2 separate regions of the Homo sapiens genome follow, and region 2 is linked to region 1. The links come from fine-mapping of genetic effects on gene expression. Tissue or cell type: subcutaneous fat. Region 1 holds a variant in brackets; the other region holds the start of a gene. All regions are shown on one strand. Distances are between the middles of the regions.

Region 1 (2,686 bases):
AACTCCAGCAGAAGGCATTATTCTCTCTTTTCTTTGAAAGGACAAGACAGAAGAAACAGTGGACAACAAGACTATTTCAGAGCACACATTAAATGTCACCAGCCACCCAGGCTTCTGTATTTGGATAAAAATTTGAGGGATCTAGAGCTTCCCACAGAGGGAGGGAGATTTGGGAAACAGAGGGAGAGACAGAAACTATTTTTTATTAATAGGCTATTTTGTAGTACAGTTTAGATTTACGGAAAAATCGAACAGATAGTAAAGAGTTTCCACATGCCCACCCCCTGTGGTTTCCCCTGTTATTAACATCTTATATTCATATGCTAGATTTATTACAACTAATAAACCAATATTGATACATGAGTATTAACTGATGTTCATAGTTTAGTCATATTTTCTTAGTTTTCTTAGGATCCCATTTTCTTAAGATTCCATCCAGGATACGACATGACAACTGGTTGTCATATCTCCTTAGGCCCCTCTTAGTGGTAATGTTTTCTCGGACTTTCTTTGTTTCCGATGACTTTGATAGTTGTGAGGAGTACTGGCAAGATATATTGCAGAACCCTCCTCTCTTTAAATCTACCTGATGTTTTCCCCATGATGGGTTTGGGGTTATAAGTTTTGGGAGGGGAAGTACTATTTTGATATTGATGTTGTGTCCCCTTATTACCTCCACACTGCTTTGACCTGAGAAATATAGTGTATTTCATTTGTATTTTGAAAGGATCACTATTGTAGCAAAAATATGAAGGGCCAAGAAACTAAGCAATATGACCAACTTGAAAACTATTGCAACAATTCAGACATAAAGAGGATACGGGCTGAGGCAACGGTGGTGTAAAAAGAATGGATGAGGTAGATAAAATATACGTTAAGAACGTAGAAATCACAGAATTCTACAACCAATTGTATTGGTTGTAGGTGTATGAATGGGGAAATCTGTAAAAGTGACTGAGAAGAAATGGTTGAAAATGTGAAAGAAGAACCAGAAAGAGCAGTGTGCCAGAGCCGAAGGAAAAGAAAGTCTCAGGAATGCTGTAGTAATTCAAACAAATGAGGGCCAAGCAACCTTTGGACTTGGAAATTAATATGATTATTAGTGAGCATTATTGGGAAGGGCTGGGAAGTGAATTCGATGTAAGGAAATAGAAATAGTGCGCATTAATATTTCTAATCATTCAAATTATAAAGGAAAGGAGAATGATGAGGGTCATAGCTAGAGATATACAGAATTGAGGACTTTTAATGATATAAGAGACAGGAGC[G/A]AATAAAGAAAGATTGAAAATATGGCAAAATGAAAAACTGGTCTTAGAGAAGATGAAAATGTGGAATCATTAATGATAATAATAGTTACGCCCACTGAATATCTATCTAACTGTTTCAGGTCCTGGGGTAGGGCTTTAATGCATAAATGACATTAACCTTAACACTCCAGGGAGGTAGGTGTGTGATTATTCCTATTTTATGGACAAAGAACTAAGACATAAAGGACTGTGAGTCAAGATTTGAACCTAAGCAGCTTAACTCCACATGGTTATTCATTGCTTTACATTGCTTCTCCAAAGCCTGGGTGGCAGCCTGAAACAGCAGAAGAGACATCTGTGAGATGAAGGAAAATTAATGAATGTGGGTGGCACATGGTGGTTGCATAATAAATATTTGTAGGATGAATGGAAGAATAACAGAGTATAGATAAAGATATGTAGCTATAGGGCCAGAAGTCAATAGAGGTCACAATTTATAGTGCTGATTACATCACCATCGATGAATGTGTACCATGTTATGCACGAACAGTATAGCACTTTTTATTATGTTACAATTCTGTGTTTCACCTCTGTCTCCTTATTTATCTGAATCCCACTCCCTCAGCTATGAGATTGGTTGGGGCTAACTTATCTGGCCTGGTTCCTTAGGCCAGAACTGGAAAAGACCAGGAAATGTCAGAAGCAAGGAGAAAACAAAGCTCAATGAAAACGTGAAATCCAATGAGCTGAAAATCAAAGATCCCCAAATAGATGGAAGGAGCAGAAGCAGGTTTGGAATTCAAGAGTCTGAAGACCAGAATTTGAAATCCTGGGAGTCAAGAGCCAGGAGAGGGCTGGAAAAAAATGATCTTAACAGATGTCACCTTCTGAGTTTTATTTTTATCTGTCAGTCACGGTGATGAATAGCCAAACTGGCTACTTTAAAAGGTTGCAAGGGGCCAGATACCTCCAGGTAGCAAACATCCTGGGGGAATGGGCTATGTCTTTTTTTTTTTAAACCTGTGATTATGTCCCTAGTATCTGACACAGTGCCTGGCATAGAGAATGTGTTAAAAAAATAAAAAAGACTGAATAGAATGGACTAATCATCTATGGGTTTGAGTTAAATATTTTGGGGGAGTGATTAATAACTATTTTGAGTTATAAGATATCTGAATTTGAACTTGATGATCTGAACTTGATAATGCAAATTTAAGCTACAACGTCACTTGAATTTGCATCTTACAGAACATCCCTGGCTTATCATTGGATGTTGTTGACACATGTAATCTGTAATCCTACTTAAGGTTATAAATAATTACCTTTCAAAGGGAGCAATAAATAGAACCATGATTCATAAATTTATTAATCCTTCTTTCTAATTGCAGACAGCTGCAGTGTTCCAAAACATTTTTACCAAATATATAACCAACCCAGGT
Region 2 (2,686 bases), 170 kb after region 1:
TTAGTAGAGATGGGGTTTCACCATATTGGCCAGGGTGGTCTTGAACTCCTGACCTCGTGATCCACCCGCCTCGGCCTCCCAAAGTGCTGGGGTTACAGGCGTGAGCCACCGTGCCCAGCAAGTGATTCTCTTTCACAAAACCCTATTTAATTTTCTGCATAGCAGTTCTAGGTAAAGTTTTTCTTTATTATTTATTGTATATCTCCTCCAAAGAGAATGTTAGTTCCACGTGAGGAGTAACCTTGTCTGCCTTATTTACTACTGATGATCACACATTTTGAACAGTGTCAAGCACATGGTAGGTCTGCAATAAATACTATTGTTAAATAAATGAAATAACTAGTACAAAATAAGAGCTGTAGGAATGAAGTGGAAGATAATTAGAAGAGGCATAATGCAAGAAGTGGCCATCTAAGTCCTCCATAGTTCAAGAGATAGAAATGAGGCAGAGACCTCACAAGTAATGTACAAACAAAACATGCAATGTGTGCAAGAAAAACAAGCAGTCCAGATACAGAGCAGTGGGGATGGGAATGCAGGGAGACTACAGTGCTGGAAAATGTAGCTGAGTTAGTACCAGATTATGGAAGATGTTGAATGCCCTGACAAGGACTTAGAATCTATTGGGTGGTCAATGGATGGCTACTGTTAGTGTTTGAGTAGAAAAGTGACACAATTCCAAAACATGCTTTTGGAATTGTAAGATGATTCTGATGGAAATGAGCAAGATGTATCCGATGGAGTAACAGTTAGAGGAGTTCAAAAACAAAACAGCATGGTCAAGAACATAGCTGTAGGGATTGGCCCTGAAAGAATAATGATCTTTTCTTTCTCCCAGAAAAAAGGAGGAAGACAGACATTCTAAGCAAGTGAAACAGGTAGGGAAACTTGGGGAGAATGTAATTCCAGCATCCTGGTAGAAGAGTGGAACTGACCTGGAGGACAGCAAAGGAGCCCACGTGGCGTTAAGCCTGAAGGTGCAGTATTCCCATTCAACAGAGACTGCTGCTGACAGTGGGCGGGGGAGTAGTTTGCTTGGCCCGTGGTTGAGGAATTCGTTGGCGGAGGAGGGATCCTGAGAAGGTACTAGAAATACTGAACCCAGTCCTGCAGAAGCTACTTAACTTCACAGAAAACTAGGGCGTCGTTGCCCTCCAGCACGTCCAAAGGTGTCCCCGACAAGGCCAGCAGCTCTACCTGTTTCTTCTCCCTCCTCTTACTCTGCCTGTCCAAAGGCACGACACTAGTCCACGTCACCTTTCTTTGGGCGCAAAGGGTATGGATCCTCAATGCCAACCTCGTCACCCCCCCCCCCCACACACACACACACACACACACATACAAGCCCACCATCGCGCAAGAAACTCGACCCCGTCTACCTCGGTTCAGTGGAAGGCATTCATTTGCACAACGCTGTGCGCATGCCCGGAAGCCTTAAGTGTTTCAGCCTCCGACAGGGGCGTAATTAAAGGGGCAGGCGCCCACGTAAAGACGCGCCCTACGCAATACGTGGAGTTTCTCACTTTGTGGAGCCGCCTGGAGGCGCCAAGATGAAGCCCATCGGGGAAGTGGGGCGGGGCCAACCCGGCAGGCCCCGCCCCTTCGCGGCGCTTCCTAGTTCGGCTGGTTCTTCTGTCGCCGGCTTCAGCAGCCCGCGCCCGGGCAGGTAAGGCATTCCCCGCCTTAATGCCTCGGTCAAACGTCGTCCGAGGTCCGCTTCCAGGCCTCGGCACCTCTGCCCCAGGGTTGCTGGGGTCGGCTGCGGAACGGAAATCTCTTTATCATCCGTGAGAAAAGTTAGAGAGGAAGTGGGTTCCTTTGACAGAGCTTACTCCAGAAGAAAGACTTGGGTAGGTCCCCGGTAATCAAGAAGTTCGTCGGCCCTGAGGAAGAGCCTGAGGCTTGGAGGGACGTCACCCAGCTGTTCTGGGGCGCAGTCGGACCTCAAGTTTCTCACCTCTCAGGCCCTGGATTCCGTGAACCCGACTGCGAAATGAAGTCTCTTTTCCCCAGAACCAGGAAGTCAGGCCAGCACCTGACAGATGCCTGTGGCGCCAGCAGCTCGCTGAGCCTCCACACGATTGTAATTCGCTTGTTTCTCCGGCCTCCAAGCTTCCAGGGAATTAGAAAGTGGAGGCGGCTTATGGGATCAGATGAGTACATTCGCAGATGGGGGAAAAAAGTGTACCTGTCAGCTTGGAAGCCAGAGGGAGACAAAGGGATAAAAGCAAACCCTGTCCAGGTGCGGTGGCTCATGCTTGTAATCCCAGCACTTTGGGAGGCCCAGGCGGGCGGATCGCTTGAGGTCAGGAGTTCGAGACCAGCCTGGCCAACATGGTGAAACCCCTGTCTCTACTAAGATACAAAATTTAGCTGGCATAGTGGCGGGCGCCCGTAATGCCAGCTACTCCGGGGGCTGAGGCAGGAGAATCGCTTGAACCCAGGAGGCAGAGGTTGCAGTGAGCCGAGATCGTGCCACTACACTCCAGCCTGGGCAACAGAGGGAGACTCCGTCTCAAAAGAAAAAAAAAAAAAAAAAAGCAAACCCTGAGAAAGCGAGAAAGCACTTTGAGCATTTAGAATGGGAACAAACGGCGCTATTAGTGCTTCAAAAACGTAACTGCCCAAGGCCCCTGGTAAGCAGAGGATACTAAAATCTGCCTTTTCCCTTTCTTGGAGTGGTCCT

Which allele goes with the higher level. Positions count from the first base shown, and alleles are read on the strand shown. Sizes are in standard deviations (SD) of each study's normalised expression.
As copies of A replace G in region 1, the expression in subcutaneous fat of the gene that starts at base 1,601 in region 2 goes down (large effect, 0.78 SD a copy in FUSION).

What was found. PIP is the estimated chance that this variant, and not a neighbour inherited with it, causes the effect.
Region 2: it holds the start of IRAK4, and the variant in region 1 is fine-mapped to the expression of IRAK4 in subcutaneous fat (FUSION, PIP 0.95).

What each region holds. Positions count from the first base shown.
Region 1 is chr12:43,587,183-43,589,868 of GRCh38, forward strand. No RefSeq gene overlaps it. Among named protein-coding and RNA genes, the nearest start is that of ADAMTS20, 36 kb to the left of the region's middle. The variant G/A (reference allele first, on the strand shown) is at 1,269.
Region 2 is chr12:43,757,351-43,760,036 of GRCh38, forward strand. It overlaps IRAK4 (interleukin 1 receptor associated kinase 4), which reads left to right and starts at 1,601. Exons shown (of 12, transcript NM_016123.4): 1 at 1,601-1,666. It overlaps PUS7L (pseudouridine synthase 7 like), which reads right to left and starts at 1,440. Exons shown (of 9, transcript NM_031292.5): 1 at 1,380-1,440. RefSeq lists enhancers at 1,128-1,177, 1,518-1,627, 2,248-2,307.